Linked DNA regions of Homo sapiens: all the other regions are reported to be linked to region 6. The links are microRNA targets in miRTarBase. Many come from high-throughput screens and were not tested one by one. Region 6 holds a microRNA gene; each other region holds the end of a gene's coding sequence.
The links. Region 6 holds the annotated microRNA hsa-miR-6817-3p (UCUCUCUGACUCCAUGGCA, at 1,471-1,489, opposite strand). A microRNA usually pairs through its seed, bases 2 to 8, with sites in the 3' UTR of a target mRNA and lowers its output. Matches are read on the target gene's strand: a 7mer-m8 pairs with bases 2 to 8, a 7mer-A1 pairs with bases 2 to 7 and ends in A, and an 8mer does both.

Region 1 (4,087 bases), not on the chromosome of region 6:
AAAACTTGATGGAGATGCTTTGGTTTAGGGGCAATCCAGAGCATTTGATCAAACTTCACAGTGCATGTGAATCACCTGGGCACCACGTTAAGTGGGTCTGGAATGCGGCTTAAGAGCCCGGATTTCAAACAGACTCCAGGTGATGCCAGTACTACTTGTCCTGGGGCCACACTTCAAGTAGCAGGATGGGAGAAGTTTCTGGTCCCCAGGAAGAGGAGACTTTGGTAAAGGCAGTTGCTCATTAGGGAGGTTTTAAAATGTCTGAAGCGAGAAATGTTGCCTACCACTCTTGTTTGTTGTTGTTTGTTTTAATCACAGGTGCCGGGCAGCCTACAACATTGTGACACGGCTTTCAAGCTTCCGGATCACTCACCATTTCTTTACTGAGAGTGTCCCCTGGCAACTGCTTAACAAAATCCCAAGCTCAGGGGCTTCTCAGCATTTACCTAATTTCTGAAAGGCTCTTCTGAAAGGTGGTATCTGTTCTTTCGTAGCACAGTGTTTATGTTTTTCCTGTTTATTGTTTTGGTTTTTTTTTTTTTTTTGCATTTGCACAGTATACACAAAAGAATATGGGGTTGTAATGATCCTGAATAGCTCAAAAAAGGTTTTAGCATGGTCAAACAGGCTTATGGTTTAAAATGTGTTATTCTCTTCTTTGGGAATTAGCTAAATGATGCAATAAACCTGTTTTGTTTTAGAATGTCTAGGAATTAAACACTTTATGTTTACAGAATTGAGCTGCAGAAAGTGCAAGACATGCCAATTTGAGACACACGGTCTTCTAAGACTGAAGGATAAATTTAATGCATTTCAGAAACTAAACATCACAGCAAGCTCTATCTCTGAGCTATAATTTGTTTTTAATGCAAAGACACTAGTTTGATAATATATACTGTAATCCTGAAACATTTGTGTTACTTACCTTTGGAGGTAGAAATTATACCAATAAATTATTGCACCGTTAGTATTAGATTCTGTGTACCTTGGAAGTTATGTCATTAATATAGGCTGGTTCATCAAATAAAGCAAAACCTTGCAATATCAGCTAGATTTACACTCCGGGACGTTGCCCAAAGGTAGGAAGAAAGCAGAGGGAAATATTTCAGTCATCATTTCCAAAGTCATTATCAAAATCTGTGAGGAAGTTTAATCTTCCAAAGAGTCAATGTCAGACATCAGGCCTCTGTTGCCTGCTTCTCTCGAGGCACTAGATTAGGAGTCTTCAATAAGAGACTTAACATGAGGTATATGGAAGATGAGGCACCGAGATAAGTTCATCATTAGGTGTGAGCACTGCTCACCCTTGCTGGCAAGTTCTCCTTAAGGGCCTGAAGCACAGGTGTCCAAAGAAAAGCGTTAAGTCCATCTTAATAGAATCTATGTGGTATATGATGTGGTCAGCCCCTGGTCTGTGATCAGCAAGAACCTACAGCACAGATTATGCCCTGCCCACTTCAATGAATACCTACTCTCCTCCATTCTCCATCACTTTTTTTGCTATCAAGAACTCCGGACCTTGCCCATGGAGAAGTTTAGAGAGGAACTCTTGTGGAGAGCTGGTTTATTTTCTGCCCTGTGCGACGAGTTTCAGCTGGCCAAGAAAGGAGTCAAGTTATTAAAAAGCATCACAATGTAGATCTCCAGGCTGGTTTTTTGTTTTTTGTTGTTAAGACTGGGGAAAGGGGGACTATTTATTCTGCCTTAAATCAATGGCAAATAAGTCAAGATGACATTTTGTGAATGTAGACTATGGATACACTCCTAATAGATTGATGTAGTCATAAAAGGGGGTCAAGTAGATGTTTTTCTGTTATGTAAGCAATAATTTTTCCGTGTCTTATTGAGTATGGCTAGCGATTATTTATTACATGCTAGATGGGTTCTTTGCATGTGGGTTCCATATAGGTGCAGAAATTTCCTCAGCCACTGGAGGGATTTCGACCATATTTGTCATTTGGATGAGCTGTTATTAGATTGAAATCTACACATCATTTCATTAAAAATTGTGCCTTAGAAAACGCAAAGCTGTTGCACATGGCGATAAATTATGGATGCAGTACATTGAAGAGAGATGAAGTCACTTCCAAGTTTCCAAGACTTCTCATGGAGGTGTTTGCTGTTTTACAGGAAAAAATAAAAATAAAAAAAGAAAAAAAGAAAAAATTAAAAAGAAAAATTGTTTTGAAAATGTACAGATCAAGTCCAATATTTTGATTATCCACCTGCATGTTTTATTAAATATTTTGATAATGTGGATGTTTACACTTTGCATGATATTAGCAGAGTACCACTAGTAATGCACAAACATGTACAATATGGTCATTCATAACCGATTTTTATAGAATACTTTTTACATGTGCAACTCCATCCGTTATGTAAGGATTACATGAATATTGCACATTCCCTTCTGGTTTCACAAACCCATTTATACATATTTCTTAGTGAGGCTCATTGTACATGTATTGAAGCTAGAATCGAGTCAAGAAAAATAAAGCCCCATTCTCCAACTGCAAAATGTGCTTTCCCATAATGAACACTAGTCACCAGCACAGAATAATCTCCAACATTTTCTAAATTCTAATTGCCAACTGTTTCTATTTATATTTGATTTATATTTCATTTGGAGTCTGTTACATGGCAGCTTAGGCAGACTAGATCTTGTTTTTTCCAATGCAGCATAATGAGTATGATCTATTTCTTTTCAAATAATCTTTGAGATCCCAGGAAAAAAAAAATGCTCTGCTCCATTGAGCTATAATGTAAATGTGTTTGTTTAAAAAACAGGTGAGGCAAGTGAGTGATTTATTGTTCCTGAGGAAGTATATCTGATTTTTTTTCTCATACTCCAAAAGCTAGTCCCTACTCTTTAATAAAAATAATGGGTAACTTTTTGTTTTTCACTAGCGAACTTCCATGACATTTCCTTTCTATGTAGTGTGATTAATGCAATACATATTATAGTTATCTATACACAGTGTAAGATTTAACAAACTGAAATGATCCACCTCATATGTGAGTCCGTCCAAAAGATGTTACTGCTCTGGGTGGGCCAGTGTTCTATATCGGTTATACTAACTTTCATTTAAAGTATTTATTCTAAAATGCCTCTGAGAAACAGTAAAAAATAAAAACAACAAGTTGTCTAAAATGCAACAGCTTTTATAGTAAATGTACATTTATAAATAAAATACTCAAATCAACTTTGTATTCCATTAATTATTTTTGGAGGGGTGGCAGTTGGTTTTCTTACATGGGGAAGAGAGACTCAAGCTTTCTCTTGTAGCTTTTGGTCCAGGGTTACATAGACAGATGATGGCAGTGCTGGATGTTTGCATGTACCTATTGATGCATAGTTGAGGTCAACTATTGAAGGCAAACCAAACTTACTGGCTGGTTTAGGGGTCACTGAGGAATTGCCTTCTATAGAAGGGTTTAAGCTCCTGGAGATGAGACACACAATAACCAGCAGAGGCCATGCAAATGCCAGTGAAACTCGTCTGAAACAACCAAATGATGGTCAGCTTGCAGCACTGGCTAGACAAAAAGCAAGGCAAACTTTTTTTTTCTTTTTCTTTTTTTTTTTTTGAGACAGGGTCTCACTCTGTTGCCCAGAATGGAGTGCAGTGGTGCAATCTCAGCTCACTGCAGCCTCGACCTCCTGGGCTCAGGTGATTCTCCCACTTCAGCTTCCCAAGTAGCTGGGATTACAGGCATGTGCCACCACACCCAGCTAGTTTTTTGTATTTTCACTAGAGACGGGTTTCTCCATGTTGCCCACGCTGGTCTTGAACTCCTGGGCTCAAGCAGTCCACCCGCGTCCATCTCTCAAAGTGCTGGGATTACAGGCATGAGCTACCGCACCCAGCCAAGGCAAACTTTTTGAAGTCCCTGTATTCTGCCACTTTCCCCAGCACTACCCCAATGTTCCCCACTTATTATATATGTAAGGTGTGTTTACTAAGGGCCTTTTCCTCAGGTGTGGAGCCAGGGAATCTGCTGTGAATCAGTAGCATCCTGCTGACACTGTTGGCTCTCTGAAGTATACACGTATTCTGCCTTGCACTCTGTTCCAAATTTGAAGGTG
Region 2 (4,087 bases), not on the chromosome of region 6:
GGAAGCCTTGATTTGGGAAGCCGGGTCCAGCAGTCACCTCCACCTTGATCTCTGTGCTGGGCTTTTGCTGCCATGCACGGCTCCTGTACAGCCCTGAACCTCCTGCCTCCTCGGAGGCTCAGGCATCCAGTTCGGCCACTCTCAGCCCTGCCAGAAGTGCAGCCTCCCTGTGAGAGGGACACCCTGCAGGCTGCACATGCACAAAAGGCCTGGGGAGGGCCTAGGCGCCAGGTGTCTCAGTGCAGCAGCCCTGCCTTCCTCCGTCTATGACGTGTGCCCTGGAGGCTGGGCGCCAGTTATGGGGCACTCAGAGTGTGCCAGGAGCCGTGCTGAGCCCTCAGCATCCATCCTTCTCGTCTTCCCCACCTCTGATGTGTATATAGTATGTCTACTCTAATATTAGATAGATAGAATTCTATATCACACATTATCCTCTCATTACACGTATGTGATAATCGTCCTCCTAGAGATGAGCAGACAGGCTCTGAAAGAAGGCGTGACATACCCAGTCATGCAGCTGGGATCCAAACCCAGGCTGCCTGGCTTCAAAGCCCACAGCCGTCCACTGCACCTGCCTTCCCTGCCCCGTGGGGAGCGAACAGAGGGTCTGTGGTCGATGGGGAGGGGCCCCCCAGCTGCCTTCTGTGCTTCTGTTGGCTCATCTGTGTTTCTCCTCCTCCAGGATACTCCAAGCGGGCCTGGACGTGGAGCGTCTCTCCCTCAGGAATTTCTTCCATCATTTCCATTCCAAGCGAGGCATGTGGAGCCGTCGCCAGATGAAGACGCTGTAGCCGGAGGGTGTCCGCGGGGCCCAGCACTCCCCGCTCTGGACTAGCAGTGGCTCCCCAGGGCCCTGCTACTGTTCAGGGATGGGGAGTGGGGTGACGGCTGGACCCCAAGAGGCCTCGAAGCTGACGGCCCACTCCACCTGGAGCTGTCCCCTCACAGAGGCAGGTTCCGGGGCTCCTGTCTCTGCCTCCTGGGCCTTCAGAAGGGAGGACTTTGAGAGAGAGGCCAGGAGGGACCACTTGCTCAGTCGAGAACGGGAAGAGCTCCTGAGAAGGACGGGTCAGGAAGGAGAGATCTGACTGAGCGACACCATCCTCATCCATGAAGGTGCACGCCCACATCCCCCAAGCGCTCCTCACGCCAAGCGCTGACCACCAGACCCTCTTCTAGTGGACATATTTTATTGGGGGGCGGGGATTTTAAAAACAGAAAACCGAAACTGCTGTCCAGAGCGGGGGTGAGGTTGTGCACTGAGGGACTGTCCCCACGTGCAGGCCTCCCGCCCACTCCTATGTCCCTTGGGCGTTGTCCCTGGCCGCGGGACTGGTCCCACGTGGGGCAGGTCTCTGCTCCACCCCAGGCTCGTGCCTTCCAGAGACACACATCTCCCAGTAGCCACCAAACAGCTGGCCACTGATTAGGGCATTAACTTCCTCCGGATGGCTCACGTCAGACCAGAAGCACAGAACGGGCTGTTTCTGGTGCTTGGGCATTGGGAGGTGGGGAGCTGGCGGGCAGGGGGCTTGCCACTCCCTGGCACTGGACATTGAGGCCTGCAGAACAGGCAGGGTGATGAAGGCAGGGGAGAGAAGCCCTTTCCCTTACCGGCGTGCCTGTGGGTAAGGCCTCCCGAGAGGACATGGAGAAGAGGTAAAGAGGATGTGGACATATCTGTCAATTTCCTTAGGCAAGAAGCGGGTGGGGGCTGGACAGAAAGGGACGAAAAGGGAAGTGGAAGCTGTGAGCCTCACAGTCCAGCTCCACTGCAGACCTGCCCTTCTGCAGGGAGAGCCCTGGCCACCCGGCCTTGAGTGGAAGAAGAGGAAAGGGTGTACGGGGGCAAAACCCTGGACAGGGAGCAGGATAAGAAGGGGGCGGGATGAGAGGTTTGGGGAGGTGAGGACATTGCCCTGAGATATCCCCTGGAGGCAGGGAGAGGAGTGGGGGCAGGAGGAACTGAAGAGGGGGGCAGTTTCAGGGAAAATAGCCCTTAGCCTTTTTAGTCGATGCCACCCTTTCTGTCACCTGGAGACCTTGTACTTCTCTTGCACTAATAACCCCGGTGCTTTTGTGGCTGGGGGTTTTTCTGTTGCTGCTGCTGCCTCCACCACTGCTGTGAATTCACCCATGGTGCATTGGACACTGGATCTTGAACTCCAGAGTCTGTTTAGGGAGGTGAGCACAGGGCTGGGGGAGGTGCGGCGGGGCCCAGAAGACCAGGCCACTGAGCCCGCGCTCCAGGCTGTGACGGTCCAAACCACGGCACTGGAGCTGCAGGGTCTGCCTAGTGGGCTCTGCATTCCCCGAGAGCACGAGTTTGGCACATGGGAGAATGGAGCCCGTGGAGAACCTTCTGGGGGGTCGGGGAGAATCCCTGCCTCCCTTTAAGGAATCATGAAGGACAGAGACTTTTGAGATTGTGGCTTAGGAAGGCCATACCTGCTCCCTGGGCTGTGGCTTTTTCTGGTCCCTGCTGAGGCCGACTGGCCCCTGGAGAAGGATGGTGGGGCATAGGCTAGGGCTGCAGTTGGCCAGTGGGGCTGCCAGTTTCTTTCTGGGACCACTCTCGTCCTCGGGCATTGCACTGGAAGGCTGGAACCAGCCCAAACTGCCCACCTGCTTCACTTCCAATGACTAGGAGCCAGCCCAGCCTCCTGCCCTGCCCACACCCCTGCGCCCTGGGCCAGTGCCTTGCGTTTGATGTTACCTCCACACCATCTGCCTTAAGAGGAAGGGCCGGGCAAGGCCCCTACTCCCTAGAGAAATGTCTTGGGTAGGAGAGGGTGTGGGATGGTGGGAGGGGAAGCATTAAATACAGCAACTTCTTAGAAAAAAAAAAAGGTGCTTGTCTTTTCCTGTTGCTCTTCACGGATGTAAAGGATTGGGCTGAGGGGCCCAGGTGGGCGTGCCAAGGACCCTCCCACACCACCCTCCACCCTTACCACAAGTGTGATGCCTGCTGTGTGTGAGATGGCCTTCTCTGCACTGCGGTTTACTCAGGAAGAAGACAACATTGTTCCTGTCTGAGCAGCTCACCGTGTAATAGACTAGGCATTTTCTGTTCAGCAGATTAATGGAGGTTGGTGGTTTTAGCCGAGGAAAGCTATGGATACGCTGGGTGGAGAAGGCTAGATATAGGGCCAGAACGGTTTGGTGAGCAGTGGAGAGAAGCCAACGAGTGGCTGCTTCTAAACTGGCAGACCTTCTAAAAATCATTTCTGTTTCTGAGTTGGCAATGCTTTGCTAATGCTTTACAGATTTACCTTCCTCGTTATATTTGGCCCAGGCAAAGATCAAAATGAGTTTGCAGTCCTTAAACACATGCCTAAGGGAAGCTGAGACTGAAAGCCAGAATAGCTTACAGCAGGTTCGTGGAGAAGATTGTGCATATGTGCATCCACCTGCAATGGACTAATCTACAGTTCATGGGGCAGATGACGATAAGCGCAAGACATCTGGGCCAGGAACATTGGCTCCGAGCAGAACCCACAGAGGAGGAAGTAATTTAAAAGCCTTCCCACCCTCCAGGTCTGGGGTTTGCTCTCTTGAGCCCTCTCCAAGGCACAGATGGAGACCAGCCTGGATGCCTGAGCCTGCAGGACTAGACAAGTAAGTGGACTCAAGAGTGGATTTGAAGAAACCTTTATAGATATAGATTCCATTTTACAAGAAGGGAAAATTGAGGCCTGGAGCAGAAGGAAGCAGTGGGGTAGAGTCAGAACCAGCATCCTTAAGCCGGGCAGACTTGGCCTTAGACAGACATGCCTTACTTAGGTCCAGCAGATGCTACCAGGAAGGTATGGCTGGCAGTACCTGCGTCTGAGCTCAGGACTTCAGACCAAGATGGAAGTCCCTTAGACCAATAACATAAAAATCACTTTTTAACTCAGGTGCTGTGGGTAGGGAGCAAGGGCAGCTATACTGTCCTTTCAGAAGCTCTCCTGGGCTGTGGAAAGTGCCCACGAGCCTGGCAGATCACGGAGGAAGGAGGCAGAAGTTCCAGGCCCAGAACCTGTTGAGGAAGCAGAGAAGAGGCAATGAGGATGGCAGGCCAGATCAATGCCCCTCAACCTTCAGC
Region 3 (4,087 bases), not on the chromosome of region 6:
CCCAGGGATGGGTCAGAGATGGTTCAGATCACTACCAGCTAGAGGATCCGTCCAGGGGGACTTCCTGGAGCAGGAGGCAAACCACCTTGGTGTGGGAGGGTGTGGAAGGTGTGCATGGGCAGAGATGGTGGGCAGGGGAGCATCTAGGTACAGGCAGCGGTAAGAGTGGAACTGGCTGGCCAGGCGCGGTGGCTCACGCCTGCAATCCCAGCACTTTGGGAGGCCAAGGTGGGCAGATCACCTGAGGTCAGGAGTTTGAGGTCAGCCTGGCCAACATGGCAAAACCCCATCTCTATTAAAAATACAAAAATTAGCCAAGGGTTGTGGTGGGCACCTGTAATCTCAGCTACTCAGGAGGCTGAGGCAGGAGAATCACTTGAACCCTGGAGGCGAAGGTTGCAGTGAGCCGAAATTGCGTCACTGCACTCCAGCCTGGTGACAGAGCAAGACTCCATCTCAAAAAATAAAATAAAAATAAATAAAATAAAATAAAATAAAAAATAAAAGAGTGGAGCTGGCTGAGGCTGAGGCAGCTTTGGGTGGGAGGGGCTGAGCTTTGCGGGGACCTTAGTTTGACAGGGACAGGGATGGACGAATTACGGTGGCGGAGCTGCGGGAGGCGGTACCGGCTCTGCTCGGGGAGCCGCTGGCGGGTCCTGAGCTGGACGAGATGCTCCGAGAAGTGGACCTCAATGGGGATGGCACCGTAGACTTTGACGGTGAGTCTCCTTCCCGGAAAACCCTCCCGTGCTTCCAGGGCCTAGGCTGAGCCCAGCACCTCCTGGGATCCCTGACGTGGACTGACCCAAGCCCTGCCCTTCTCTCCCGCAGAGTTTGTGATGATGCTCTCCCGCCACTGAGGCTCCAGGAGGGAATATCTGTTGCCCCTGCGGCCCCAGACACCAGCCAGACCCAGGCTGCAGGCCTCCCCCAGGAGCCTCCAGGATGGAGATGGAGACCCAGCAGCCCCCAGACTACTTCTATCCCTGAAAACACCTGGCCTCAATGTTGGCTTGTTATGTTACCTGCCCACCCTCATCCTTACCTCCTCCTACTCAAGCTGCCTGGAGAAGACCTGCTCTCAGCTGCCCACCGTTCCTCAGTGTGAGCAAGATTTGGGTCTCTCCAGACCTCTGGGAGGTAGGGAGTTCCCTGGCACTGGCAGCATTCAGTGGGGACCCCCCAGTGGCATGATGAATGGAGAGGATGGCTGGACCCCTTCCACTACTTATGTTTATAATTTTTTTTTTTTTTAATGAACTTGAGCCGGGTGCAGTGGCTCACACCTGTAAGCCCAGCTGTCAGGGGGCAGAAGCGGGAGGATAGCTTGAGCCCAGGAGTGCAAGACCTGCCTGGGCAATATACTGAGACCCCATTCTCCACAAAAAGGAAAAATAAAAGACAAAAAAACAAACAAAAAACCAAAAAACCCAAGTGTAAAAAAAGTGAGCTTGAAAGAAAGAAAGGGATGGCTCCATGTATCAAAGACAAAGAAATCAAAGCTGGGGTTGTAAGAGGGAGCTGACGCTGTGGGGGTTTCAGATCTGGATGGAGGCTTGGCCGCCTGGACTCCTACAACCATGAGTGACAGAAGAACCATATGAGTCTGGGGAGCAAGAAACAAACCCCCCGGATATATTCCAGGGTCTCCAAAGGCTAAGATATTAATCTGTCTGCACTGACCAGTCATAGAAAGTGGCAAGGATACAGATGTTCAGGGCCCAGAGTGGAAACAGCTGCCCTAAAGAGCCTGGAACTCCAGGGCCTGCCCTTCAAGCAGGCGTGTAGTCTCTCTCCAGGGTGTGAAAAACTGGAAAAAAACCCTGCCGCTCCCAAAGGGGAACTTGTGATAAAAATTACAGATTATTGGGCTGGGAGTGGTGGCTCACGCCTGTAATCCCAGCACTTTGGGAGGCTGAGGCGGGTGAATTACCTGAGGTCAGGAGTTTGAGGCCAGCCTGACCAACATGGTGAAACCCCATCTCTACTAAAAATACAAAAATTAACTGGGCGAGGTAGCATGCACCTGTAATCTCAGCTACTCGGAGGTTGAGGCAGGAGAATCGCTTGAGCCCGGGAGGTGGAGCTGCAGTGAGCTGAGATCACACCATTGCACCCCAGCCTGAGCAACAGATCGAGACTCCGTCTCAAAAACAAAACAAAAAAACCATACTGATTATAAAAGTAAAGAAACCACCATGAAGGAGACGAGACAGAGACAAAAACAAGAGGACTGGCATCTCAGTGTACATAATACAGCCGCCTAAGAGACCACAAGATACATGCAAATAAAAGACGGCTAAAAGGGGAAGAGAGATCAACATGCAGTAACAGGATAGTATGAAGAGAGAACCGGAAGATTTAAAAAGTAACCCAACAGGCCAGGCGCATGGCTCATGCCTGGAATCCCAGCACTTTGGGAGGCCAAGGTGGGTGGGTTGCTTGAGCTCAGGAATTCGAGACCAGCCTGGGCAACATGGTGAAACCCTGTCTCTACTAAAAATACAAAAATTAGCCAGGCGTGGTGGTGCTTGCATCTGTGGTCCCAGGTATTCTACAGGCTGAGGTGGGAGGATCACTTGAGCCCAGGAGGCAGAGGTTGCAGTGAGTCGAGATCGCACCACTGCACTCCAGCGTGGGTAACAGAGTGAGAATCCGTCAAAAAGAAAAAAACAAACCATGGCTTCTGTTAAAAAAATAAAGTATATTTTATATATACACACACACACACACACACACACACAGCCATTGGAATGAAAAAATAATGGATAAGCTAAACAGCAGATTAAACACAATTTAAAGATTAATGAACTGGAAGCTATATCTAAGAAATCACTTATAATGTAACACTGAGAGACAAAAGGATGGAAAATATTACAGGGTAGTTAAAAGTCACTGGAAGGCTGGGTGTGGTGGCTCACGCCTGTAATCCCAGCACTTTGGGAGGCTGAGACGGGCGGGTCACAGGGTCAGGAGATCGAGACCATCCTGGCTAACACAGTGAAACCCCATCTCTACTAAAAATACAAAAAAAAATTAGCTGGGCGTGGTGGCGGGCGCCTGTAGTCCCAGCTACTAGGGAGGCTGAGGCAAGAGAATGGCGTGAACCCAGGAGGCGGAGCTTGCAGTGAGCCGAGATTGCACCACTGCACTCCAGCCTGGGCTACAGAGCGAGACTCCGTCTCGGAAAAAAAAAAAAAAAAAGGTCACTGGAAGACTGGGTGTGGTGGCTTATGCCTGTAATCCCAGCATTTTGGGAGGCTAAGGCAGGAGGATCACTTGAGGCCAGGAGTTTGAGACCAGCCTAACAGCAAGACCCTGCCTCTTAAAAAAAATAATAAAAAAATAAGCTGGGTGTAGTGGCTCATGCTTGTAGTTCCAGCTATTCAGGAGGCTGAGGTGAGAGGATCATTTGAGCCCAGGAGTTGGAGGCTGCAGTGATCGTGCCACTGCACTCCAGCCTTGGTGACAGAGCAAGAGACCCTGTCTCAAAGAAAAAGACAGATAAGTCCTTGGGAGTCTCAGACGGAGGACATACATAGAGAATGAACAAGAAGCAATAACCAAAGAGATAATGGCTGAAAATTTTCCATAAAGACTTCCACAGACTTCAACTCCCCAGATTGAAGGAACAAACTGAAGTCAGAGTAGGGTAAATAAAAATAAATATATATCTGGATATATCCCATTGAAACCACAGAATATAAAAAGCAAATCTTATAAATAACTGGAGAGAAAAGTCAGATTCACGGTGTTCTGTCAAAGTGTTCATGTAGACTAAGGGTGGGGAAACTTTCTGTAAAGGGCTGGAGAATAATTATTTTCAGCTTTGAGGCTTTGGTCTCTGTTGCAGCTGCTCACGCAACTCTGCTGTTGAAGTTTGTAGTGCAAAGTCAAGTCAACAAATGAGTGTGGCTATATCAGAAATTTTAATAAATAACAGTAAAACTTCATTTATTGACATGGAAATTTGAATTTTATATAATTTTATGTCATAAAATCTTATTATTCTTTGACTTTTCTCCAACCATTACAAAATATAAAAACCACTCTGTGGACTATACCTTGCTGATTCCTAACGCAGACT
Region 4 (4,087 bases), not on the chromosome of region 6:
TAGCTTATCTGAGTGTTAACATGAAAAACTAACAACTTTATTTTTTCTTCTTTTTTTCACTTGCAGCAATGGTGAACTAGACCCCTGGTCAGGAGGTGGAGTAACTAAGGATATCACAGACACTCTGGTTGCAGTCACCATCTCAGAGGGGGCCCACCACTTAGATCTCCGCACCAAGAATGCCTTGGATCCTATGTCTGTGCTGTTAGCCCGCTCCTTGGAAGTTAGACATATGAAGAATTGGATCAGAGATTTCTATGACAGTGCGGGAAAGCAGCACTGAGAAACTTTTGATTGTTTTCAATTTCTTCTTTTATGTTCACACCACCACATTCCCATTCACTTTGATTTTCTACATGTAATTACCTTCTTTTGTTTATCATTAGATTTGATGGGGCCAAAGTTGAGATAGAATAGAGGGTGATGACGGTAAGAGCAAGTGTCCCATGAATGTGATTTCCTGGGTTCTCACTGTCTTTGCACCACGTCTAGGAAGAATCTTCTTGATAGCTCTCCCACACCATCAGTGGCCCTCATAACTGGAGTAGAGTTCCTGGTTGCTTTTCATAAGAGGGAGAGTTACTTTCTTTGTATCTCTGCAAGCAGAGATTTCTCTTTGGTTTTGAGGTTGAAGTGTCTTTGGCCCATTTGTAAGTCCCCATCCCTACCCTACACAAAGTAAAAGCAGAAGATAGATAAAAAATGATGTAATTGCAGCTGGTAGGATGTCTGGTGCCAATCCAGGAAGTGAGAGCCATTTCTTTTGTACCGGATTTAATGACTTTGAACTGTGCTGTAAATAAATAATACAGCTGGACCTTATACCTGTGTGTTGCTTCTGAAGCTCACTTCAACTCCGGCTGATGGAAATGCTGTGTGCACTGGGCTTAGCTGTTTTTGGAAAGTCCTTTAATTTTTTCTCTTCCACTTGGCAGCTTTTCTTAGTTCTGGGATGTTGGCCACTGTGGTACTGCCAGTAAGAAATCTGGCCTTTTTCTGCTCCATTTCTCTTTGTTTCTAAGGTCAGTTTTAATTTGTTTGAATTCTGCCAGTTTAGGAAAATGACTCTGTTTTGTCTTTTTAAATCTGAGCAAGCTTTATGCTGTAGTCACTAATTATATTTCAGTAAGAAGCCTTTAAAAATTGATGAATCAGCTATTCCAAAAGTAGAATATAGTAATATTCAGCTTTTAAATTTTTAAAATTTTATTTTCTGATAGTTGTTACTGCTGTCATTAAAACCAGAAGTGTTAGACACTAACAGGCAGGTGCACAAGAACTTTTCTGTATGACTTCCAAAAGACAAGCTGACTAATTCATGCAGGCAGCATATTTGACATTAATAAATGGCCAAGCCATTCCTATTTCCAAGGGGTTGGCTTCTTTCAAGCAGTTCTTACACTGAGACCTTTCTTCAGAGAGCTTTTCTAGGATAACAAATAGGGTTGGATCAAAACCTTTCAGGGACACAGAGAGACAGAGAGAGAGAGACTAACAGTTTCTACTCTGTTGAAAGATTTCTTCCTCCTTGTTTCTTTTCATTTTCTCTCAATAATTTTTTTTTCTTCACCCTGCCTTGGGAACATTTTCTGCTTTTAAAAAACTGTACCTTGAGCTTGATCATTTTTATGGCATTTTTTTTTTTTAAGGGCATATATAGAGTTCATTCTTGGGATGGAAAGCTGAAATATTTCCTTTACTTTCCCTGGCATCTGGGAGATACAGGAAAATCTTTGTCTTATTTTGGGAGCCTTCAGTTCTCATTGTAATGAGTTGTCTATCAAAGCATTTGGTAACTATTTTGTTTCAGCATCACAGAACAATCGATTTGGGTGGGAATTTAAGGGCCAAAACAATACTAGTTTTTATTCTTTGTCAACTAAGAAATTAAATAATGCAGGGTTTATGGGCTCAATAGAGGATATTCTTACAATTTATTTTACGATTTTAGGGTTTTTCCCTTGTGTAGAATCTTTAAAATACTTTGCCATTTTATTTGATGTTGATTATTTGGATGAGTTACATTATTCTGAAGAAACAAACTGCAAAAAATAGAATTTTTTGGCAAGCATAATTGTATCCTATTACTGTATGCATTTTAGGAATATAGATAGCAGCCTTAATTGAAGTGAGTATAATTATAATATGCTAAGGTTTAATTTTAACATGAAAAAGAATTGGAGTGTCAGATAAGCCTTATTATTTAAAGCATCCCTCTAATAAAACTGCACTTTTTACTGACAGGGAAAGAGAGACATGGAGACTTGAGTGCTTTCTATTTTTATTTTTTTCAGCTCCCAAGAGCTTAGAAAGAATTGGGTGCTTTTTATTTTCTGTTTTTGTTACTTTAACTGCCTGGAGTCAATGGGTAGAACTAAAGTAACTTAGGAGAACCTTCATAAGGAATCTGTAGCGCCAAGAGGTTATCCAGAGGAGCCAGTGTCTAAGCCAGCATAGTAGAGGGTGAAGGCCCCTGAGATATCCAGTTCAACTGCATCATTTTGTAAGGGATAGAATTGTAGCTTAGAGAGAAGGAACTTATCTACGGCCTCACAGCTCCTTTTTGGCAAAACTGGGGCAGAACTGGGGCTCCTTTTTGGCAAATTTTGTTTGCTTCATTTTACTGGTACAGTTTTATTTTTGTTTGGATTCAAGCAACAAAAGCCCACAAAACCAGCTTAAGGAAAAGAAATGTTTTGAAACTGCCAGATCAGCTCCAGGACTTGGGTTACCAGGAATCATGGGGAACTAGAACTAGGGTCTGGAAAGTCATTAAAAATCAGTACTGCTGTGTTCTGTTTCACTTTCAACAGAGGTGACCCATTGTCAGACTGTGGTTTGGATTTGTTCGTCAGATGTCTACAGTTCGATAGGCAGTCTAAAGCGTGCATCAGAATTACCCAAAAGGGCTTGTAAAAATGCTGATTGCTGAGCCCCATCCCAGAGTTTCTAACATGTCTTGGGGTGGATCTTGGGAAGGTGCATTTCTAACAAGTTCCCAGGTGATGCTGGAGCATCACACTTTTGAGAGCCCCTAGTTGAAAGAATCTGGAATTTGAATTTGAATTCAGTTATCTTACTTCTGTCATCCTGCCTGACTCATTTGAGTGTGGGAGCCCTGCCTAATGCTTCTCTTCCCATGACTGCTTTATTCTCCCTCTACAGACCAGCTTACTTTTCTCTACTCGCACAATGCCCATAATGACTTCTTAGAATGGTGTCCTCGACCCTCTGAGGGAGCAATACCTCACAAATGCACAACTCTCAGGTGGTTAGGAAAGAACAGGGCCATGAAAACATGGTTACAAAGGTGTACTTCTTAGGATTGGGGAAGCAGTTCAGGCAACTCAATCACACGACATCTATCACACAGTGTTTCTTGGAGCACAGGTATCCAACAAAATGCCAATAACTTGTGTAGTAGAAAGACTTATACCTATAGTTGAGCAAGTGTGGAAAATAATGGGACAAATGAAGTTAAATAGTTGCTTCGTTTATCTGTAAATAGTATGTGACTCTCCAAAATGGTGATTGAGAATACAACTTTTTTTTTGGAGACGGAGTCTCGCTCTGTTGCCCAGGCTGGAGTGCAGTGGCGCGATCTCGGCTCACTGCAAGCTCCGCCTCCCAGGTTCACGCCATTCTCCTGCCTCAGCCCCCGGAGTAGCTGGGACTACAGGTGCCCACCACCACACCCGGCTAATTTTTTTTTTTTTTTTTTTTTTTTTTTTTTTTTTAGTAGAGACGGGGTTTCACCGTGTTAGCAAGGATGATCTCGATTTCCTGACCTCGTGATCTGCCCGCCTCGGCCTCCCAAAGTGTTGGAATTACAGGCGTGAGCCACCGCGCCTGGCCAGCTTTTTCTATTCTTAACAGAGCATCTCCTAGGCATAAGGCATTGGTCTAAAACCTAAAAAATGCAATGGCGAAAAAGCAAACACAGCACCTAATTTAATAAGGTTTGTGTTCTGCTGGGAGAAAGACACGAAATGTCAAGTTATACAATGAATTGGTACAATTATAAATGTTACGAAGAGTTGAGCTTATTAGGACATTAATTGCAATCTAATAGGAAAATAGAGATTAA
Region 5 (4,087 bases), not on the chromosome of region 6:
AGGAGCTGAGGGCTGTCCTTGCTAAGCTCATCAAACTTAGCTCTCTTCTCTGCCATGTCTCCAGTCTTCCCCTCTTGCCTCAGGTGCCATCCGCGCCAAGAAAAAGTTAGGGCAGCTGGTTCTTCCTTCCTCTCCCTCACTGCAGCTGCAGCGCTGAGGTTGCTACAAAATGTAGCGTCAATCTCATTAATCTCCCTCCCTCCCGGTGGAAAGCCTGCCTAGATCGCAGTTATGCCGGTGGCCTGGGTGTAAAGCGGCTCTGGTGTTTCCCCTCCCCGTGCCCTGCAGGAGCTGTCCTGGGTTCTGAAATGTTCGTCATCCTCATGCTCTACCTCTGGTTCGCCATCGGCCTGGCCTGCGCCGGCTTCTGCTGCCACCAGCTGCTGTTGATCCTCCGCGGGCAGACCCGCCACCAGGTGCGGAAGGGGGTGGCAGTGAGGGCCCGGCCCTGGCGCAAGAACTTACAAGAGGTCTTCGGAAAGAGGTGGCTGCTGGGCCTGCTGGTCCCCATGTTCAATGTCGGAAGTGAGAGCTCCAAGCAGCAGGATAAGTAGTAGACACTCCCGTCATTTATCTCTCTGTCTCTGTCTTGACTCCTCCTGAGCATAAAACCATGGCAGCCTTGTCTCCACCCATGACTCACTACAACCTTGTGCTGGTAAGGTCCTAGCATCTTCCCCTCACCTTCCACCCATGAGAACAGCGTGAGCTGGTGGATCATGACAAGGAGGAAAAATGTCCCCCCAGGCATTTCTAGGCTCCTCACGAGCCAGCCAGGTGGCTGCTAGCTGTTAGGCTGCCTCTGCTTTCTTTCCGTCCCCTTGGGATCCCTGCTTTCCCCCTCTTCCTGGCTCATCCATTCTCCACCGTGTCTCATTCATCACTGCTGTCTGCTAGAGCCCTTCCTCTCAGCCCCCATGTTGGGAGAGGGGAGTGGATTCTTGCTGCTGGTATGAGACTCCCTGGGACCTAGAGGCTGGCAAATGTTTAAAATCACCACGTGTAAGAGGCAGCCAAGTCAGCTCTGCCAACTGCTAGGGGAGTTGGGAAAGAGTGGGTGTGTGTCCGCATCCCCTCTGTAGGAAAAAGAACTTAGTAGCTTGCTGCTCCCTCACCACCCCCCACCAGGTTCAAGACCCTTTTTCTGGGAGACAGCAATCAATGGCCTGCTTTTTCCAAATGTTATTCCCTGTCCACCCTGCCCCATCTGGCCGGCCCAGCCCAGTCCAGGACCTGGCTGGATGCTTCCTGTCCCTGGAACTCTTCCAGCCTTTCTACTTGATCTCCAGCCCCCAGGTCTTTGCCAGATGATGGGAAGGCAAGGAAGAAGGGACAGGGAAAGATAATTACTGATAAATGAAGGGGATATTCGACTGTATAACCATATGGAAGTGTGTGTGTGTGTGTGTGTGTGTGTGTGAGAGAGAGAGAGAGAGAGATGGGTGGTGGTGAGAAGTGTTGTTAGAAACATATAGGAATAATGCCTAGGGGAAAGGGAGAAGTGAGAGGGACAATTGGGTTCATTTATGCCCTATACAAAGGGCATTCCAGCAGCTGAAACTCTTCAATGTTTGAATGGCTGCCTGTGAAGGTAGTGAGTGCCCCATCACTGGAGGTATTCCAGCAGAGTCTAGGCAGTCGTCTGCCAGGCATGCTGTGGAAGGGATTTCTGTACAGGGTCATTCTAGGTGAGCTTACACATTCCTTCCAACCCCAAGGTTCTGATGTCCTGGTTGTGATTGCTGGACCCAGAGGCAAGATCTGCAGAGATGCCTGTGAGATATTTGCTTTCCTAGAGGGGAGTGTGGGCATGGGAGGGGTCTGAAAATCAGGACCCAACCCAGCCACTGAAGAGAGAGTCTCTGCAGAGACAGGGCTACCTGGGTGGTTGAGGGGACTGACATTTGAGGACAGGGAGATGGAGCAGTGTCATTGTCAGTGGCAGGGCATGGGGGGCAGTGGTGAGCTAAGGCTGAGGAGTGGAGATGACCAGAATATAAGGGTGCAATTCCCAGACCATCCCTGCGCATCTGACTGACTCCGGTGGAGGCACTGCTGTGTGTTTTCTGAAACCTAGAGGACCAGACCTCTGGGGCATATAAGGGAGTAGGGACAACACAAGTGCCCCCTCCTGACTGGGTCCCAAAGCCAATATGACATCCATGCAGGCAGCAGTGCTGAATCCATGCCCTGCAATGTCCAACCGCCAACTGCAGTGACCCGCTGATAGCTGCGCAACAGCCTGGGTTCTTGAGCAGAGATTGGGAGGACTTTACTGTGGTTCTGCCTTCACACCCCCTAGAGAGCTAATGTAGTATTGGCTCCACCTGCTCACATTTCTCCCTCCCATACTCATTCCTTCACTCATCCATCCTACGTATATTTATTGAGTGCCAACTACGTTCCCAGCCTCTTCCAGGCACTGGCAATGCAGTGATGAACAGGATGACAAGATTCATGCCATCAGGGGCACCTTGTCACTGCCGTCTGTGCACTGATTCACACTCCCTGCAAAATGGTCACTCTGCCATCTTGGTGGTTGGTGGGGCAGGTCATTTGGAAATAAAGAATGTGATAGAGATGGCTGAAGAGGGGAAGCCTAGGCTGCCTCAATGGAGGAGTCGCTGGGGGCATTTTCACCCACAATTCTGGCCATACTTAAGCAATGGGAGGGAGAGGGAGGAGGGGAAGATCTGGGCAATTTTGGCCTTGACTCTTTCCTGGCTCCAGAGCTCAAGCTTAGAAGCCAGCCCTGCTATTTCCAGCCTCCTGAAGGCTCAGCACGGTGAGGCCTGACATCCTGGGGAAGGGCAACAGGGAGACCTACAGGATGTTGGCTGCTTGCAGACTGGTCAATGGGGGATGACGGTGGGGAGGTTGCCAGATGTGAGACTTGAGTAGCATTTGTACACATGGCCCTGTATTGTCCTTGAAGAACATCAATAAAATATATGGTTTTAAATTGGATTTGATATGATTGTATGGGCACTGTTGGTAGCAGGGCTGGACTGTACTGATGCAGCCATACTAGCTATTCAAATATTTAAAATAAGTATTGAAAATACTAAGAAATTCTTACAACTAAGAAAGTTGGTAAACAACCATGGCTCAGATTCTCTGAGTATCCTACCCCTTCTGCCCCTGCTCCTCCCTGGGGACCCTGGATTCACTCCACAATCCAGCAACTAAAGTGATCATTCCTGGCACATGCATGGGGCCCCCCAGCCCTGCTGCAGCCCTCAGTCAGAGTCCATTGTGATTTGTCAGGGCTGGGCTGTGTGGTGCTAAATAGGTGTCACCTCTGGTTGGTAACCAGAGGCTTCAGTGCTGGGTTGGTAACCAGAGGCTTCAGTGCTGGGGTCCATGGACCCACAGGGACCAGAGATGGAATATCTTACCTAGGAACTTCCCTTTTCCTCCTTCTCCTTCCATTCTTTCTCCTCCTCTCCCTCTCCTCCCCATATCAGAAGACAGGTGAGGAAAAGAGTGAAGAGAGTCCCTCTGCTGCTCCTCCACAGACAGAGCCAGCTTCTCCTAGGGATCAGTCAGGCCCCCTGCCCTCTCAGGCCCTGCAACATCTGGAGGTCTCAGGCTTCCCAGCCCTGGGGACAGTTGGGAGGGTGTTGAGCCTTTCAGGCAGTGGGCCCTGAGCAGACGAATGAGCAAGGCCTCTGATTCATCCTAAAGACACAAGGCCTGGACTGAGGAAGGATACAACTGCAAAGAGCTGTTGCAGAACCCTCAGCCTAGCCGAGTGTCATGGTGGTGTATGTTCCCTGAACACACACCAACAGGCGAACAGCTTTGCTGCAGGTGCTGGGTGAATGGAGCTGTGGTGAATCCTCAGCACATTCTAGAACATGGGCTGCCTACACTCCATGGGGCAGGCACCACACTTGCCTTGGTCACTGTCATATCCTTGATGCGTAGCAGGGGCTAGGCACACAGTAGGTGCTCAATGAATATTGCCTGAATGATGCAGATTTAGCGCTCACATGCTTACTCCACATCTCTTATTCCCATGCTGGACCCAGGACTGCACTTTGCACATCGTGGGGCTAGAAAACAGATGAGACCACTCTCTCTT
Region 6 (4,087 bases):
AGAGTTGGGATCAGCATGTCCCACACATCACTCTCTTCCCAATGCACCCACTACGTGTCTATGACCACTGCTGTTGGATCACAGCCGTTTGTTAAGTTTCTACTGGGCCATTTTCATGTAACAGACACTCTGCAACACTTTGGGGAATGTTTGATTCTGAAATGTCATTTTTTCCTCCTCAAGTTTCTCTTTTATAAATGGTGGCTACGATCTACCTACCCACCCACATATGAACACCCACACATACACACACACGCACACCCACACAAGCGTGCACACATACAGGCACACACGCACACTTGCACACACACACGCGCGCGCACACGTGCACACCCACACATGTACACACACATGCACACCCACACATGTGTGCACACACGTGCACACTTGCACACACACACGTGCACACACATGCACACCCACACATGTACACACACACATGCACAGGCTAACTGTGCCTCTAATAGGCACCTGAGATACTTTGATTTTTCTTCATTTCTACATCTCTTCCCATCCTCCTGTCCCTATGACATTTTCCTTAGTTATCTCATCTCATCCTTTACACATAAAACCCTTATCCCTCAGACATAAAATCCTCTTATGCCATTTAGCAGATGAGGAAAGTGCGGCACAGAGAGGTCAAATGACGTGCTCAAGGCCACACAGCTGGGAGCAGCACAGCCAACTTGGGAACCCAGGTCTGTGGGGTGCAAAGTCCAGTGTTCTCCAACCTTCCAGTAGGTCCTGGGAGGAGCTAGACTGGGCTTGGAGGGTTTGAGAGTGTAACTGAGCAGTGATGGGCCCTGTCCCCTTCCTGAGAGTTGACACTCTCACACACTAGTAAGAATCAGGATCTCAGAAGCACTGAAAACTCACACTGGCACGAGTCTTGAAGAAGAGCTAAACCACCTTCTCCTCCAGCCCCAAACTCATAATTTCTTGTAGTATTTCTGATGGCTATTGGTTATTGAGCAATGACGGGAGTTGCCCAACCCTTGGGCGCGGGGGGCGGGCACCAACCACCTAAAATAGAATGTGAATAGTGCCCTCTGGAGCATTTCATAGTCTTGTGATTGGAGCCTTCTGGAGTTGCAGTGTGACAACCCTCAAGCTAATAAGCACATTGGAACCTCAGGACAGTAGATACCAATATGCCCATTTTACAGATGAAGAAACTGAGGCTCAGGGAAGTAAAATGACTTTTGCAAGGTCACCCAGTGAGGAGGTTCCTCACCAATCAGAAGGGGCACAATGCTAGAGGGGCGGGCTCCTTCCTGGTCCCAGGACCTCCTGCTCCAAGGTGGCAGAGAGAGAAAGTAGGATGATGGCAGGGGGCTCACCACTTTGATGGGCCTCAGGCTGCTGAGTCTGTCCTCTGGCTGCTGGTCCACCAGTCCCAGTGGGCGTACTCGCCCTTCTCAAACACAAACTGCTCGCCCTTGCAGTTGGCCTGTTCATAGCTCACCCAGCTGCCATGGAGTCAGAGAGAAAGGGGGCAGGTCAGTTCCACTCCAAGCTTCCTATGGCAGAATCCTGGCTACTGATGTTGACCCCTAGGGTTCACTCTTGCCCAGCCCGGCAAGATGTAATAGCCCCACCCAAACCTTAGCACAGCAAATCCAAGTGCAAAATCCCCTCAGTTATCTAGAACTCAGTGCTATGCTGCCTTTACCCACCTGGAACACAGTTAAGAAATAAGAAGGCAGTCTAAATAACGGCCCAGCAACAAATACCAATATATAGACGCCATGCACTAAAGCCAATAGTATGCTGGTAAGTTAATAGCCAACTCTCAAAAAACAAAACGAAAATTAACACTCTTGATTTGCAGCGTTTGCCAATTTCCATGGTGTAAATGCTCCCACTGTGGCAGATTTCAAGCTATCAATACGACACGGCTGCAAGTGAAGTTAGGAAGAGAGATGCACAGTCAGCCTTCACCACTGAGAACTGACTCTAGAACATCTCTGGGCCCAAAGCCCCTCTCTTTGGATCTGTTTCTTCTCTTGTTCCTGTTGTTAGACTCTGCCCAAACTCTGTTTTTGTAGATCCACATTAGAAGAAAAATAGTACATTAAAGAGGAAGGGATGGCTTTCAGGTCGGGCATGGCTAATAGAAGAAAGCAGAAAATAGAAGAAAGAAGGCACAAATCTCAAAATGATTAGCATTCTGGGACCAACCAGTGCAGAGGCGAACATTTCAGCAATGTGCAATAATGGCTTTTCAGAGGAATGATCTAAGTCATTAACAAAAGAGGAGATCATGTTTATTATCCTCTTTTGGAAAAGTAGTCTTGATCCAGCAATTCTACTTCAGGCAATGGTTCCTTACAAAACAGTTGTCAAGGGGCTGGGCACTGTGGCTTATGCCTATAATCCCAGCACTCTGGGAAGCTGAGGTGGGCAGATCACCTGAGATCAGGAGTTCGAGACCAGTGAAACTCTATCTCTACTAAAAATACAAAAAATTGGTCAGGCATGGTGGCTCATGCCTTTAATCCCAGCACTTTGAGAGGCCGAGGCGGGCAAATCACGAGGTCAGGACTTCAAGACCAGCCTGGCCAACATGGTGAAACCCCGTCTCTACTAAAATACACAAAAATTAGCTAGGCATAGTGGCAGGCACCTGTAATCCCAGCTACTCAGGAGGCTGAGGCAGAAGAATCACTTGAACCTGGGAGGCGGAGGTTGCAGTGAGCCAAGATCACGCCACTGCACTCCAGTCTGGGCAACAGAGTGAGACACTGTCTCAAAAAATAAAAAATAAAAATAAAGAAAAAGAAGACGTTCAAGTGACCAACTGACATGAAAAAATGCACTACCTCACTAATCATCAGTGAAATGCAACTCACAAACACAATGAGATACCATCTCACGCTGGTCAGAATGGCCATTTTTCCAAAAGCAAAACAACATGCTGGCGAGGCAGGAAAGGAAAGGGAACGCTCCTACCTTGGGGAACGTGAAAACAGGTTCACACTGTGGAAAGCAGTGTAGAGATTCTCAAAGAACTTAAAACAGAACTACCATCAGACCCAGCAATTCCACTACTTAGTATCTACCCAAAAGACAATAAATCCTTCTATCAAAAAGACACATGCTCTCGTGCATTCATGGTCGTGCCATTCACAAGAACAAAGATGTGGAAGCATCCTAGATGACCAGCAACAGTGGATTTGATTTTTTAATGTGGCGCATACACACCAAAAAATACTACGCAGCCATAAGTAAAACACACAATCATGTCCTAAGCAGCATGGATAGACCTGGGGATTATTATGTTTAGCAAACCAAGGCAAGAACAGAAAACCAAATACTGCATGTTCTCACTTATGAGTGGGAGCTAAACAGTGAATACACTCGAACATAAAGATGGAAACAATAGACACTGGGGACTATCAGATGGAAAAAAGGAGGCAGAAAGGGAGTGTGGGCGGAAGAACCACCTGACGGGCACTTTGCTCACTGCCTGGGTGACGGGGTCAGTGGCCACAAGCCTCAGTGTCATCAAAGGTTCACATGTAACTAAGCTGCAATTTAATCAAAATAAAAGTTGATTTAAAAAAAAAAAAAAAAAAACAGGGTTGCCCTGGGCACAGTGGCTCCCGCCTGTAATCACAGCACTTTGGGAGGCTAAGGCAGGCAGATCACTTGAGCCTGGGAGTTCGAGAGAAGCCTGGGCAGCATGGCAAAACCCTACCTCTACAGAAAGTACAAAAAAATTAGTGGGGCATGGGGATGCGCACCTGTAGTCCCAGCTACTTGGGAGGTTGAGGAGGGAGGATCACTTGAGCCCGGGAGGTTCAAGGCTGCAATGAGCCAAGATCGCACTGCTGAACTCCAGCCTGGGTGACAGAGCAATAACCTGTCTCAAATAATAATAATAATAGGATTAGGATATATTATAGATAGATAGATAGATAGATAGATAGATAGATAGATAGATAGATAGATAGATAAAACAAAACCTACAGTCATCCAGGCAATCACTGACTGGCATAAATATAGAAAGACAACCGAATGGACAAAATGAGGGAGCCAAGTAATCAACCCAAAATTATATTTAGGGCACACATTTTTCAAAAGC

Region 1: the mRNA of LIMCH1 is a reported target of hsa-miR-6817-3p. Seed matches in the 3' UTR shown: 7mer-A1 at 2,069-2,075.
Region 2: the mRNA of B4GALNT3 is a reported target of hsa-miR-6817-3p. Seed matches in the 3' UTR shown: 7mer-A1 at 1,006-1,012.
Region 3: the mRNA of CABP4 is a reported target of hsa-miR-6817-3p. Seed matches in the 3' UTR shown: 7mer-A1 at 2,311-2,317 and 7mer-A1 at 2,345-2,351.
Region 4: miRTarBase lists PRCP as a target of hsa-miR-6817-3p. Seed matches in the 3' UTR shown: 7mer-m8 at 1,416-1,422, 8mer at 1,470-1,477, 8mer at 1,478-1,485, 7mer-A1 at 1,481-1,487, 7mer-A1 at 1,483-1,489 and 7mer-A1 at 1,485-1,491.
Region 5: miRTarBase lists ZDHHC22 as a target of hsa-miR-6817-3p. Seed matches in the 3' UTR shown: 7mer-A1 at 1,421-1,427, 7mer-A1 at 1,423-1,429, 7mer-A1 at 1,425-1,431, 7mer-A1 at 1,427-1,433, 7mer-A1 at 1,429-1,435, 7mer-A1 at 1,431-1,437 and 2 more.

The regions. Positions count from the first base shown.
Region 1 is chr4:41,696,842-41,700,928 of GRCh38, forward strand. LIMCH1 (LIM and calponin homology domains 1) reads left to right here. Exons shown (of 32, transcript NM_001330672.2): 32 at 319-3,203. The coding sequence ends at 344. Among named protein-coding and RNA genes, the nearest start is that of LIMCH1-AS1, 6.1 kb to the left of the region's middle.
Region 2 is chr12:560,661-564,747 of GRCh38, forward strand. It overlaps B4GALNT3 (beta-1,4-N-acetyl-galactosaminyltransferase 3), which reads left to right. Exons shown (of 20, transcript NM_173593.4): 20 at 683-2,849. The coding sequence ends at 791. It overlaps NINJ2 (ninjurin 2), which reads right to left. Exons shown (of 4, transcript NM_016533.6): 4 at 3,636-4,021. Among named protein-coding and RNA genes, the nearest start is that of NINJ2-AS1, 68 kb to the right of the region's middle. RefSeq lists an enhancer at 2,089-2,590.
Region 3 is chr11:67,457,800-67,461,886 of GRCh38, forward strand. It overlaps CABP4 (calcium binding protein 4), which reads left to right. Exons shown (of 6, transcript NM_145200.5): 5 at 572-719; 6 at 832-3,953. The coding sequence ends at 860. It overlaps TMEM134 (transmembrane protein 134), which reads right to left. Exons shown (of 7, transcript NM_025124.4): 7 at 3,911-4,087. Among named protein-coding and RNA genes, the nearest start is that of CABP4, 4.5 kb to the left of the region's middle. RefSeq lists enhancers at 2,123-2,172, 2,383-2,432.
Region 4 is chr11:82,821,102-82,825,188 of GRCh38, reverse strand. PRCP (prolylcarboxypeptidase) reads left to right here. Exons shown (of 9, transcript NM_005040.4): 9 at 67-2,253. The coding sequence ends at 283. Among named protein-coding and RNA genes, the nearest start is that of LINC02734, 42 kb to the right of the region's middle.
Region 5 is chr14:77,130,150-77,134,236 of GRCh38, reverse strand. It overlaps ZDHHC22 (zDHHC palmitoyltransferase 22), which reads left to right. Exons shown (of 3, transcript NM_174976.2): 3 at 289-2,967. The coding sequence ends at 554. Among named protein-coding and RNA genes, the nearest start is that of ZDHHC22, 9.6 kb to the left of the region's middle. RefSeq lists an enhancer at 1-449.
Region 6 is chr22:25,453,094-25,457,180 of GRCh38, reverse strand. MIR6817 (microRNA 6817) reads right to left here and starts at 1,535; the gene lies at 1,470-1,535. It also overlaps the pseudogene CRYBB2P1. RefSeq lists an enhancer at 1,365-1,468.